Homo sapiens: one gene and its partner. Each later gene encodes a partner of the first gene's protein in a complex. Each region holds a gene or a part of one and is shown in the gene's direction. Other genes may lie near its edges.

Region 1 (7,023 bases):
TACAGGTATGCAGATACCGCTTCAAGATCCCGTTTTCAGTTCTTTTAGATTTATACCCAGAGTGAGATTGCTGGAGCAGATGGTAGTTCTGTTTCTGAATATTTTAGGGAACCGCTATACTGTTTTCCATAGCAGTTACACCATTTTGCAATCCCTCCAAGTGTACAAGGGTCCCAGTTTCTCCATATCCTCACCAACACTTGCTGTTTTGTTTTGTTTTGTTTTTGATACTAGCCATCTTAATTGTGGTTTTGATTTGCGCTCTTTGTTGATTAGTGATGTTGAGCACTTTTGTGTGTGTGTTTTGGCCACTTTGTGTATCATCTTTGGAGAAATGACTAATTCGGGTCATTGTGCCTATTTTTAAAATCAAATTACTATTATTTGTTGAATTGTAGTTCTTTATATATTCTGATATTAACACCTTCTTAGAGATACAATTTGCAAGTATTTTCTCCGAATCCGGAGGTTGCCTTTCCACTCTGTGGATTGTGTCCTTTGATGTACCTGCCTGTTTCTTTTCATCTGTTCCAGCTTCCTGACCTATTAAGCATGCTTCTGAGATCTCTAAGGGGAACTAATTTAGAGGGTGTTAAGAGTTCTTTCAGGTTTTAATTTTGTTGACCTAATGAAAGTCATATAATTTAGAATGTATGGTTAGAGAAAATACACCTGTGTGTTAATGCCATGGTGCTTTGCTGTAAGGCCATCATCGAAATCTTAGTAATGACTGGCTGGGCACGGTGGCTCATGCCTGTAATCCTAGCACTTTGGGAGGCCGAGGTGGGCGATCATCTGAGGTCAGGAGTTCGAGACCAGCCTGGCCGCCATGGCGAAACCCCGTCTCTATTAAACTCCATCTTTACTAAGTGCCGTCTCTACTGTCTCAAAATAAAAATACAAAAATTAGCTGGGTGTGGTGGTGGGCGCCTATAATCCCAGTTACTTGGGAGGCTGAGGCAGAAGAATCCCTTGAACGTGGGAGGTGGAGGTTGCGGTGAGCCGAGATTGTGCCACTGCACTCCAGCCTGGGCAACAAGAGTGAAACTCCGTCTCAAAAAAAAAAAAAATTTGTAATGACCAATAGGAGAACTTTAAACAAACTTTAGACAAATTCCATACACACAGAAATAGAATTTTGTACATGTGATTGCATGGGAAGGATGGCTTGCTTTCTGGGGGAGTTCCCTATGGTAATCATTTAAAAGTCTGTCTTTCTGTTCTCTGCAGTGGGAAAGTATACCTTAAGGTTACCTAGATGGCTTCAGATCTTCAAGAAAAAAGTTAAAAAGAAAGAAGACTCTAGCACATCCTAATTATTATAGTTCTTAAGAAGCTTACGGCTCCTGCCCCTGACTTGCGCAGCAGTTCTTCAGTGCAGTGTACCATGAGCATTAATGTCTTGGGGGCTCTGTACAGTGTTCTGTAATATCGGAATATTTAGGGTACATTGAAAATGTGCCTGGATTATAAAGTACTGCATTTGTATGGAGTCTTATGAACACATCTGCTAGAAGAAGGGAGCTCCTCCCAGGCCCAGTGTAGACTGGAGTCGAGGTGGAGGCCAAGCAGAAGGCAGATCTGCCATGGTCTGGGAGGTGGCCGAGTTAACACATGGGGTCCTGGAGGTGTCAGTTTCTTTTGGCCGTTTCCTGGATGAGGAGAAATTTGTTGTAAATTGCTCTTAGGTGTATCCATGTGCTCCACATGCCCAGGCATGTGGAGGCACAGATAAGGATTTTGGAGGGAAACAGCCTACCCAGGCTATAATTGCTTTGTTAAGGGGCAGGTTCCCTAATCCACTCTTGGAGCCTTGTTTCTCATCTGGCTAATAGGGCCAGTGATGCCTGCCTCTCAGTCGTGGCAAAGAGTAAATGAGTTAGGAGGCTCTGTAAAGCACCAAGCATAGGGCTGGTTAAGTAGTAGCTGTAATAAGTACAAGTGAGAATGTTCATTTCACTTAGTGGGTTTCTTCTGCTTTTTATTCTCAGAGCGCACTGTAAGGATCTTCTGACAGTTTGCTGTTATTGATTTATTTATTAATTGAGACTGAATCTCGCTCTGTCACTCACGCTGGAGTGTGATGGTGCAATCTTGACTCACTGCAACCTCTGCCTCCTGGGTTCATTCAAGCAATTCTTGTGCCTCAGCCTTCTGAGTAGCTGGAATTACAGGCATGTGCCACCACGCCTGGCTAATTTTTGTATTTTTAGTAGAGATGGGGTTTTACCATTTTGTCCAGGCTGGTCTCGAACTCCTGACCTCAGGTGATCCGCCCACCTTAGCCTCCCAAAGTGCTGGGATTAGTTTGCCGTTTTTTAAATGAAGATCCTGTTTCTTAAACTCTGCTTCAGGTATTACCAGAGAAACGGAGTCTGAAACTCTTGAAGAGCCACAATCTCAATGTGAATTGGTACATGTACTGCCCCGAGAGCGCCGTGATCTTGCTGTCTACCACGGTCCTGGAGAATGTCCTGCAGCCTTTTCACTTTAGGGTAAGAGGAAGCCTCCCCTGAAAAAAACACCTTTCCCCAGTTGTCCCCTGTTCCTGTAGCATCCTAATGTGTCAGGCACGTTAGGGACAGGTTCCTCTAGCCGTAACGTCACCGCTCTGACCACTAGAGGGCACTCTGTATACCCGTCAGCTCCTGGAGCCATTCATTCTATGCTGGGCAGACAGGCTGTGAGAGGACATGGGGGACGGTGGAAAGGATCCAAAGACGAAGTCTGTGTTTATCCTTGTTGGTTTTACACAGGGAATGATGAAACATTGAAGGGGTTTAATAAGCTTTTCCTAAAACATTTTCCCCCTAAACAGGCTGGCACTATGTCGAAGCTGCCCAAATTTGAGATTGAATTACCAGCTGCGCCTAAGTCAACTAAACCCAGCCTTTCCGAAAGAGACATCGCAATGGCTACCATGTATGTCCGTGTCAGAGAGAATTCCATCCTGTGATTGCTTTCAGTAATATAAATAATAGAAGGAGTGTGTTACAAGCACCACGTGATGCCCTGACCCCTAGAACACATAAGGAGGACTCCCCTTGTTCTGGGTATTCAGTGTATAGGTCCTGTGAACATAGAAAACCTGCAGTGTTTTTGGCATTCCTTTTTGATTTTTATCAGCTTTGTGATGCTAAGGAATTCCTTTACCTTTCTAGCCTGATAAAACAAGAACATTGAACCAATTTATTTCTTAGTATCTTTGTTTTAGAATTTCTTCTTCTTTTTTTTTTTTTTTCGAGACAGAGTCTTGTTCTGTCCCCTAGGCTGGAGTGCAGTGGTGCAGTGTCGGCTCACTGCAGCCTCCACCTCCCAGGCTCAAACGATTCTTCTGCTTCAGCCTCCCAAGTAGCTGGGATTACAAGTGTGCGTCACCTCGCCCGGCTAGTCTTTGTATTTTTGGTAGAGACAGGGCTTCACCATGTTGGCCAGGCTGGTCTCGAACTCCTGACCTCAAGTGATCCACCTGCCTTGGCTTCCCAAAGTGCTGGGATTACAGGCATGAGCCACTGTGCCTGGCCAAGTTTATTTTTTTTAAAAGCTCAGTTAAATAATAATTGTTCTAAATAAGAAAATAGATTAAGATTTTATGTAACAGACATGGAACTAAATTACGTATATATAGAGGTATATTTTCTTTTACTTTTTTTTTTTGTTTGTTTTTGTGATGGAGTCTTGCTCTGTTGCCAGGCTGGAGTACAGTGGCACGATCTTGGCTCACTGCAACCTCCGCCTCCCAGGTTCAAGCGATTCTCCTGCCTCAGCCTCCCGAGTAGCTGGGACTACAGGTGCGTGCCACCATGCCCAACTAATTTTTGTATTTTTAGTAGAGACAGGGTTTCACCATGTTGGCCAGGGTGGTCTCGGTCTCTTGACCTCTTGATCTGCCCTCCTCAGCCTCCCAAAGTGTTGGGATTACAGGCGTGAGCCACCACGCCTGGCAGTACGGAGGTATATTTTCATTTGAAAAAGTGGATATCTCAGTTTTTAAATTTGTAATGAAAATTTTAAACACACAATAGAGACTAATAAAAAAGAACCCCTGTATGCCTGTATCTGATTCGACAATAGTCAAAATTTTGCTTCTAAGTTACTTCTGATTCTTCTGTGGCCTAAAACAGTGGCCCAAACTTTCAAACTTTATGGTAGTTAGTATAATGTTCTTTCATTTCTTCTTCCTTTTTTTTTAAACGTACTCTTCTGTGGCATTCCTGTTTATTTTTAAATTTTTTTTGGAGAGTGTCGCTCTGTTGCCCAGGCTGGAGTGCAGTGTTACAATCTCAGCTCACCACAACCTCCGCCTTCTAGGTTCAAGTGATTTTCCTGCCACAGTCTCCCAAGTAGCTGGGACTACAGGCGCATGCCACCACATCTGGATAATTTTTGTATTTTCTGAAGAGATGGAGTTTCACCATGTTGCCCAGGCTGGTCTTGAACTCCTGGGCTCGGGTGATCCTCCCGCCTCATCCTCCCAAAGTGCTGGGTTTATAGGCATGAGCCGCCGTGCCCAGCCAGCATTCCTGTTTAGACAATAGATAAAGTGAGAGCAGTCCTGGCTGAAGTGGAGGTGGGGACCTGTTCCCTCCCACCTTGGTCTCCTCCTTGTCCCTGGGCAGGCCCAGCACAGAGTTTACCACTGGACTAGAATATGCATTCAGGAACTGTTCACAGCAACATTTATTAGATGGCACTTAAATAGAAAAGGCTGAGCATGGTGGCACACACCTGTAATACCAGTGACTGGGGAGGCCAAGGCAGGGGGATCGCCTTGAGGCCAGGAGTTCAAGACCAGCCCGGGCAACATAGTGAGACCCTGTTTCTACAAAAAAATTTAAAAATTAGCCAGGCACGGTGGCACGTGCATGTAGTCCTAGCTACTGGGGAGGCTGAGGTGAGGGAAGATCGCCAAAGCCTAGGAGGTGGAGGTTGCAGTGAGCTGTGGTTGCACCACTGCATTCCAGCCTGGGTGACAGAGGGAGACCCTGTCTCTGAAAAATGAAAAAAAAAAATAGTGATTATATTTTCCTGTTATTAAGGAATATACATTCATTATACAAAACTTGGAAAACAGAGAAGAAAATGAACTTAGCATATCACTCAAGTATAACTATTACATGTGTTTCTTTCCAATCATTTTAGACTCTATGCTTAGGTTTGGGGTTTTCTTTTAAAATATTATGATCAAGCTGTGTTTAGTGTGTGTTCTCTTTTCCACTTAACTTTATAATAGGCTTTGAGTAACTGCATGTTTCTTTGTAAACACTTGTTGGCAGCAAAATACTCCATTAAGTGAATATCTTATAATTTACTTAACCGTGATGCCATTTAGAACAAAGGAATTTTGAATGGCCAGATGTGATTTATGTCTGTTTGTTCCCTAATTAGATACGGGCAGCTGTATGTTCTCTTCTTGAGGCATCATTCTCGGACCTCCAACAGCACAGGAGCGGAGGTGGTCCTCTATCATCTACCACGGTAGATTTCATGCTTTGTTTTCCCTCTCTCTCTGATTTTAAAATGTGAACTGCAGCTTGTTGATCTGTTTTTTGCTTTCTATCCTACAGAGAAGGTGCCTGTAAAAAGATGCACATATTGAAGTTAAATAGGACGGGAAAGTTTGCCCTGAACGTGGTGGACAACCTGGTAGTCGTGCATCATCAGGATACAGAGGTACAAGCTGTCTGCGTTTCTACCAAAGTTAAGGTTGCTTAAAAGCCTTGTGAAAATTGGTGGCTGGGCACGGTGGATCACGCCTGTAATCCCAGCACTTTGGGAGGCCAAGGCGGACAGATTGCTTGAGCCCAGGAGTTCGAGACCAGCCTGAGCAGCATGGCAAAACCCCACCTATATAAAAAATACAAAAATTAGCCGGGCGTGGTAGTGCACGCCTATAGTCCCAGCTACTTGTGGGGCTAAGGCTGGAGGATGGCTTGAGCCCAGGAGGTCGGGGCTTCAGTGAGTGGAGATCGCGCCACTGCACTCCAGCCTGGGTGATGGAGCAAGATCCTGTCTCCGAAAAAAAAAAAAAATTGGCAAAATGTCTGAATAAGACTAGAAAGTGCATTTTTATGCTAAGAGTTTTGGTCTTCCAGATGGAAATGGGTTTGGTAGTCTCAAGTAGTTTAGAAAAAAGTGATTGTGTCAGTTGATTAAAGATAATTCAAAACTATTTCAGAAACTAACGCTTGAGATTTGACCTTGGAAGAAGGTGGGAATCCGCTCCATTCCACGAGTACTTGAACTCTCTGTTGCAATTGTGAGCATGGATGACAGTGCTGGGGGATAATGGTTTTGAGGCCGTGTGGACCAGGACAACTAGAATGGGTCCTGTGGGCTGGGCCTCTGATATAAAGAAGCTGCTTACCTCCTCTACCCTCCCAGAGGGTGGTGACGCTAACTCTGTGACACGTGAGGATGTTTCCAGTTGAAATGACAGAGATCTGCTTAGGTCACTTTGAGTGAGCTCATCAAAGGAAGCATGTCATAAATGCAGGAAATACTTGTGAGAGGAGATAAAAATATTAAAAGAGAGTTGTGATGTTAATGACAAATTCCTTCTCAAGTAAGAGCTAGCCTGTAGGGAGGAAATGCAAACACAGGCTTTTAAACTGATTTAAACAGCAAGATGGGATGGAATGAAAGCAACTGGGCAAACCATGATTGATTTTGGCCTCAGTCTTGTCTTTTTCCCCCCCAGACATCGGTAATATTCGATATCAAGTTACGGGGAGAGTTTGACGGCTCCGTTACCTTCCACCACCCCGTGCTTCCCGCTCGATCGATCCAGCCCTATCAGATCCCCATCACAGGTAACACGGGTTCTGTAGAGGAGTCTGTGCTGCCCTTTCACCATGTGGCTGTGTTCTCACCATGATCTTTGGGAGTCACGTTAAAAGTGGAGTGAGGAATAAACAGAGATTCCCAGATCTGTCTGATTTTGCCAGGGGCCATTTGTTCCAGTTTTGTTGTTGTTTTGAGACAGTCTCACTGAGTCACCCAGGCTGGTAGGTAGTGTCGTGA
Region 2 (7,023 bases), on another chromosome or scaffold:
ATCCCTGACCTTAGGTGATCTGCTCACCTTGGCTTCCCCAAGTGCTGGGATTACAGGTGTGAGCTTCCGCGCCCGACCACCTTCACGGTATTTCAGTGATCTTGAATAGAAAACGCCCAGATCCAGCCTCATTGTCTGTCTCCTTTTAAAAAACCGGTTCCAGAGTCTGATACCTGCTAGTTTCTCTGTGCTTTTTCCATGTGCTGCTCCTTCCTGCCTCATTTCAGATCAGATGGTTTGCCTGAAAGCTTGTTTTTCTCTTCCTCCTCTTTCTTCACCGAAGATCCGGAGAATTAAAATCCATGTACATTTCTGAGACCTAGGATCACGTTCCCTGTCTACAGCATACCCATATTTTCCCAGGGGACTAGGGGAGAGAATGTGGCATTACCATATAACCCAGGAAGCTAAGAGACATCTGCTCCTAAAATGAAACAGTGTGGCTTTGGAGGTTTCCTGCATAATCCTACACGGAATTCAACCAGCGAGTCCAATCCCTTGTGACTTTTTTTTTCATCTCAAATGGCATGTAAAATACAGGACTGTAGGAGTAGCCTTTTGCAGGTCAGGATAAAGTTCCAGTGCCTGGGCTGAAGTTTAACTCTTTACCTTCCTTAACTTCGCGGTCAGGTGGTGAGCCTCTTGATATAATGTTAAAGAAAAAAGCACCAGTTGTCCCAGCTACTCAGGAGGCTGAGGTGGGAGGTTTGCTTGAGCCTGGGAATCGGTGGCTGCAGCAAGCTGTGGTCACACCACTGTAATCCAGCCTGGGCGACAGACGAGACTCATCTCTTGAAAAATGAAAAAAGATGAGACCAGGCACAGTGGCTCACATATGTAATCCCAGCACTTTAGGAGGCTGAGGCGGGAGCACTGCTTGAGTCCAGGAGTTCGAAACCAGCCTGGCAACGTAGCAAGACCCCCATCTCTACATAAAATACAAAAATTAGCTGATGGTGGCGCATGCCTGTAGTCCCAGCTAGTCTGGAGGCTGAGATGGGAGGACCGCTTGAGCCCTGGAGGCCAAGGCTGCAGTGAGCCATGATCGCACCACTGCTTCCAGCCTGGGTGACAGAGCAAGACCTTGTCTCAAAAAAAAAAAAGAAAAAAAAATTTTTTTTTAATAAAAAATGAGCTTTATCCAGGGCTTCAAATTCTTTGGAAAAGTTTGACAAAGTATACCACGTAAATTCAGATTTACCTCAATGCTAAGAATTATGTTTAGGAAAAAGGAAACTCATTTTGATCTCAGGTAGAAAAATAGATTGCTTTGAGTTTTAAGTAGCTTTAAACTTTAAAAAGTTAGAATTTATTCTGTGTTACTAAAAATGACTTGAAAAAAAAATTTTTGTTTAATGAGCTTTATCACAGCAGTGGAAAGACAGAAGACAGTTCGAAACGTTTAACCCAGTGCTTTTCTGTTGTTGCAGGAGTGGATTAGAACAAGATGACATGAGAATTTTATACAAATACCTTACCACCTCCCTTTTCCCAAGGCACATCGAACCTGAGGTATGATGGGTACCATAGCTGCACACAATTACATGCAGGGGCACAGAGAGGGCAGGTGGAGTGAGATGGTGGTGCATGGGGGTGTTTCTGATCGTTTCTGATGTATGTTTTGTCTTAGTGTGTTATTTATGTCACTGTATATCAATTAGCACAGAAAACCACATGCAGCTCTCCTCCAGTATGTGACATTCAGATGTGATACAGAAAGCATCGTTTTGTGTGTCTGTGTGTTGGTTTTTTTGTGTGTGTTTTTGTTTGTTTGGTTTTTGAGACGGAGTCTCGAACTTTCACCTGGGATGGAGAGGTTCAAGCAATTCTCCTTGCCTCGGCCTCCCTAGTACCTGGGATTACAGGCGCCCGCCACCACGCCCAGCTAATTTTTTTGTATTTTTAGTAGAGACAGGTTTCACTATGTTGGCCAGGCTGGTCTCGAACTCCTGACCTTGTGATCTGCCCACCTTGGCCTCCCAAAGTGCTAGGATTACAGGCGTGAGCCACTGCCCCCAGTCCACAAAGCATGTTTTTAAGAGGAGTGAGTCATTGAGTAGAGGAAAATTGGATTTTATTTTACTTTTAATTTATGTATTTTATTTTATTTATTTATTTATTTATTTATTGGGACAGAGTTTCGTTCTTTTCGCCCAGGCTGGAGTGCAGTGGTTTAATCTCAGCTCACTGCAACTTCCGCTTCCTGGATTCAAACAATTCTCCGGCCTCAGGCTCCCAAGTAGCTGAGATTATAGGCACCTGCCACCATGCCTGGCTAATTTTTATATTTTTAGTAGAGATGGAGTTTCACCATGTTGGCCAGGCTGGTCTCGAACTCCTGACCTCAGGTGATTGACCTGCGTCAGCTTCCCAAAGTGCTGGGATTACAGGCGTGAGCTACTGCTCCTGGCCAAAAAAATTGGATTTTAGGTTGGGTTCTAGAAACCTTTAAAATGCCAGTGATCTTTAAAACAATCAACCTGTGTAGTATTTTCCTCTATCAACAGGAGACCTAATTTTCAGTAGATGTTTTAGTGCCTACCTGGCTTTCCACTCTAGTACTTAATTTCCTGGTTTCCTGCAGAGAACTTTTAAATGATATCACTGTGTTCTCCCCAAAGTATTTTCAGAGCTTAACACACAAAAATCATTTTGGCTCAGTTGAACTCACTCTCTTCGCTTGTTCATTCCCTCCCTCTTGTCCTCCCGCTCTCCAATATTTTTTTTAAGAGATGAGGTCTCACTTTGTTGACTCGGATGGTCTCAAACTCTTGGGCTCAAGCGGTCCTGTCACCTCAGCCTCCCAAGTAGCTGAGACTACAGGTGTGTGCCACCACACCTGGTTAATTTTTTGTAGAGATGGGATCTCGTCATGTTGCCCAGGCTGTTCTCAAACTCCTGGGCTCAAGTAATCTGCCTGCCTTGGCCTCCCAAAGTGCTGGGATTATAGGCGTGAGCCACCTCACCTGGCCAAAAATTTAAAAACTAGCCAGGTTTGGTCACACATGCCTCTATCAGGAGGCTGAGGTGGGAGGGTTGCTTGAGCCTAGGAGTTCAAGGCTATAGTGAGCCATGATCATGCTGCATGCATTCCAGCCTGGGCAACAGAACAAGATCCTGTCTCTAAAAGAAAAAGACAAATGGCATGGAACCAATTAGTAGATAATGCTGTTTTTCAAAGCTTGGAAAATAAATAAAAAGTCTGATAAGTCATTCTCAACATTAAATGTATTTGCAGTTAGCAGGAAGGGATTCTCCAATAAGAGCAGAAATGCCAGGAAATCTTCAACACTATGGAAGGTAGGACTTCTGTTCTTTGATTTATGATACTGGGTTTTCTTTCTTTTTTGACTCAGAGTCTGGCTCTGTTACCCAGGCTGGAGAGCAGTGGCAAGATCTCCGCTCACTGCAACCTCTGCCTCCCCGGGCTCAAGTGATTCTCATGCCTCAGCCTCCCAAGTAGCTGGAACTACAGGCATGAGCCACTATGCCTGGCTAATTCATTTTGTATTTTTAGTAGAAACAGGGTTTCATCATGTTGGCCAGGCTGGTCTTGAACTCCTGACTTCAAGTGATCCACCTGCCTTGGCCTCCCAAAGTGCTGGGATTACAGGTGTGATCCACCATGCCTGGCCTATTATCTTTTTGGTAAAGATAATATGGACATTGAAATATCTTTGTGCCATCTGATTGACAGTAATCAACAAAGGAAAGTTTGTTGTTTCCAATGAGTTAAAACTTACTTCAGCATACCCTTTTTTTTTTTTTTTTTTTTTTTTTGAGATGGAGTGTCTCTCTGTCGCTCAGGCTGGAGTGTGGAGTACAGTGGCACGATCTCAGCTCACTGCAGCCTCCATCTCCTGGGTTCAAGCAATTCCCCTGCCTCAGCCTCTCTAGTAGCTGGGATTGCAGGTGCCCACCACCAGAACCAGCTAATTTTTGTAGTTTTAGTAGAGATGAGGTTTTGCCATGTTGGCCAGGCTGCCCTTGAACTCCTGACTTCAGGTGATCCACCCAGCTCAGCCTCCCAAAGTGCTGGGATTACAGGCATGAGCCACCACGCCCAGCCGGCCTATTCTGATATGGTGTTTGCCAAATAGCAGCTGGCATCAAAAGCAACTGGTGTGTATGAAGTGGGAGTGTGTTCTGTTTCTAGATTCCTGATTCTCCTTCACCTCGTTGAATCAAGTCATGTCTGTTCTTGCTTTTAAGATTTCTTACCGGACCCTTGAACCTCAATGATCCAGATGCAAAATGCAGATTCCCCAAAATTTTTGTAAATACAGATGACACTTATGAAGAGCTCCATTTAATCGTTTATAAGGTAACAACTGTTTTCCTTCCAGCGTTAATGATTGTGCTGAAATGGATCTTTCTTGCATGTGTACACGAGTGCATGTGCAAACCTCTTAAATGTTTCTTGGAAAAGATATTGGAAGTTCTGATTATGGTAAAACTCAAAATGGGTGTTCTTCCAGCGTAATAAGTTTATTTTCAGCTCCTTTTAAACAGTTCTGTTATTAGTGAAAGAGGAACTGTTTAAGATTGTGATTTATAAACGTGTGAAGTCTCACGTGCTCTCAAACCAAAGGCTGTCAGAGGTTGGTGCTGCCTGTTCTCGAAATGGCTCTGGATGGGGGCCGTAGCCACGTGTCTGTGCATATGCTGCTTTTGCTCTGATTTTAAAGCTGTAGGCTTGCTAATTCCATAAGGATCGTATTTTGTTTCTGTCAGGACATGGTCTTGTAAGGATATGTACTCAGGTTGTGTTTCTAATTAAAGGCAGTTTTTGATTCAAGAAAGAAGACGGAGCATGTGCACGTGTTTATCCTCTTTCCTGCCTGAGGCTGTGGAGAAGTTTTCATTTATAAAGGCTCAGAAATGATGCCGTGGGGGAACAGGAAGGAGCGGGATGTGTCAGGATGAGGGAGTCCTGTCCCTCTCTGGAAGGTAGACGGGACTTGTAAACCATGCCTGATAGAGGGCGGTGCCGGAGCAGGCCTGGAATATGAGTGGCAACCCTGTGCTAAGGCAAGGACCCACAGCCCTGTGGAAGCCCAGAGAGGCTCCTGACTTGGAGGAGGTCACCTGAGGAGTCAGAGTGGGGCCTGGGCCTGGAAAGGTGGGGAAGGGAAGTGAAGTGTGGCAGAGAGGCCAGTCAGCCTCCCCTTCCCCCATCCTTGCACAGACAGGCCCACGGCTGAGCATCCATCCCTGGGTGACAATCGAGGGTCTGTTTAAAGAAAGGAAACAGTCTGAAGAGACCCAGAGTGGCTAACGTGGATGTCTGCCCCTGAGAATGAGGCCCTGCTCATTCTGGCATTTCTTTCTTCCAGACAGAACTGAGACCTTCATCCTACACTCAGAGTGAAGCCTCCATCTCTGGTCAGCCTTCTGGTTCCCTCATTGTTAAATATGGCTGCAAAAACAAAACTAGAGGTCTCGAAAGAAACATGATTCCGAGGACAGACGAGAACTTTAAAAATTAGTATCCACTAATTAGAAGAGTTGTATCTATTAATATAAAATTGAAATGGGCCAGGTGCAGTCCCAGCACTTTGGGAGGCCAAGGTGGGAGGATCACTTGAGGCCAGGAGTTGGAGGCCAGCCTGGGCAACATAGTAAGACCCTGTGTCGACAGGAAAATGTTTAAAAATTAGCCAGGCATGGCAGTGCTCATGTGTAGTCCCAGCTACTCAGGAGGCTGAGGCAGGAGAACCGCTTGAGCCCAAGAGTTGGAGGATGTAATGAGCTATGATCACACCACTGCATTCTAGCCTGGGTGACAGAGTGAAACCCTCTCAAAAATAATGAAACTGGTATCAACAGTTTCATATCCAGCACCAGACATTATGTGACAGTGGAAGAGAGACTTTCAAAGTTCTGAGAGAAAATGAATTTGAGCATAGAGTTCTTTGCCATGCCAAGCTGTCAACCACAGATAAGACAAAAGAAAGACATTAGCCGGGGCATGGTGGCTCACGCCTATAATCCCAGCACTTTGGGAGGCCAAGGTGGGCGGATCACCTGAGGTCTGGAGTTCGAGACCAGCCTGGCCAACATGGGGAAACCCTGTCTCTACTAAAAATACAAAAAATCAGCCAGGTGAGGTGGCGCACGCCTCTAATCCCAGCTACTCCGGAGGCTGAGGCAGGAGAATCACTTGTACCCGCGAGGCGGAGGTTGCAGTGAGCTGAGCTTACGCCACTGTGCTCCAGTCTGGGCAACAGAGCAAGACTCTGTCTCAGAAAGAAAAAAAAAAACACGTTCAACATGAAAAGCCTCAAAAAGTTTACCGTCATGCACCCTTCCTGAGGGTGTTACACAGGGTCATCCGTCAGCAGAATAAGTGAGCACACCAAGAAGGAACACTTGGGAATCCAGAACAGTAGTTCTCATGTGTGAGACGGTACAAGGAAATCTTGGGGTGATAAGGCTCTTCAGGTCTGCTGGCGGCACCCCACCTCCAGCAGCTCCGTGACAGCAGGAGGAGGGAGGGCTCTAGGGTTCAAGCCGCCAAGATAAAAAGATGTTTCATTCATCACATGGTGTGCTTGAGAGTCACTTAAAGTTGGGCTGTGACAGACTGGCAGGGAAGGGGAGATTGCAGGCAGAGCATACAGAAAGATGTGGTCTGAAAAAGCAAACCAAAATGTTGGAGGTGTAATTCAGAGCAGGAATTGGAGTAGGAAGAATGTCCGTTTGTGTATCGAGTGAAAGTTTGAGACCCCATCTCAAGAAAAAAATCATCCTCCTTTGAATGACCCAGGTAATGACTGAAATCTCCATAACCCTGGTGTGTAATATGCTGTCGGCTGCATTTCTATTTTTAGAGTCAATCTACAGACATATTGTGGGGTGTGATGATGGGGTTGTGGCTATGTTAAAGGGTCCTTACCTTTTTCTTAATGACTTTGAGATACAATGCACGTACCATACAACTCACCCTCCTACACTTAAAATGTACAGTTCAGTGATTTCTAGTTGCAAAGTTCATGAGTCTCCAAGACCATCCTCACTTCT

What was found. Proteins that work in one complex are often made in the same cells at the same time.
Region 2: the proteins of RMC1 (region 1) and CCZ1B are in contact, whole or in part, in a cryo-EM structure (PDB 9L0D), measured with the Homo sapiens proteins. Residues at the interface, in NP_037458.3 of Homo sapiens: Arg403, Ala404, Ser405, Leu406, Pro407, Lys477, Phe478, Ala481, Met484, Glu485, Ile487, Arg488, Asn491, Gln492, Tyr516, Met517, His519, Gln520, Phe521, Gln523, Tyr524, His525, Val526, Ser528, Tyr544, Pro546, Gln549, Leu552, Asp553, Lys556; in NP_932765.1 of Homo sapiens: Phe195, Phe196, Pro197, Leu198, Lys200, Met201, Tyr203, Leu204, Lys205, Gln207, Ser208, Asn211, Arg212, Glu214, Glu215, Val220, Lys221, Leu231, Ile232, Trp233, Ser234 (codon at 1,432), Leu236 (codon at 1,438), Glu237 (codon at 1,441), Gln238 (codon at 1,444), Met384, Asn385, Asp426, Asp445, Arg446, Arg447.

What each region holds. Positions count from the first base shown.
Region 1 is NC_000018.10:23,513,502-23,520,524, forward strand, and holds part of RMC1 (regulator of MON1-CCZ1 complex), read left to right. Parts: intron 1-2,354; coding exon 2,355-2,495; intron 2,496-2,818; coding exon 2,819-2,922; intron 2,923-5,388; coding exon 5,389-5,478; intron 5,479-5,567; coding exon 5,568-5,673; intron 5,674-6,700; coding exon 6,701-6,812; intron 6,813-7,023. UniProt on the Homo sapiens protein: Component of the CCZ1-MON1 RAB7A guanine exchange factor (GEF). Acts as a positive regulator of CCZ1-MON1A/B function necessary for endosomal/autophagic flux and efficient RAB7A localization.
Region 2 is NC_000007.14:6,809,253-6,816,275, reverse strand, and holds part of CCZ1B (vacuolar fusion protein CCZ1 homolog B), read left to right. Parts: intron 1-1,430; coding exon 1,431-1,512; intron 1,513-3,238; coding exon 3,239-3,300; intron 3,301-4,212; coding exon 4,213-4,324; intron 4,325-7,023.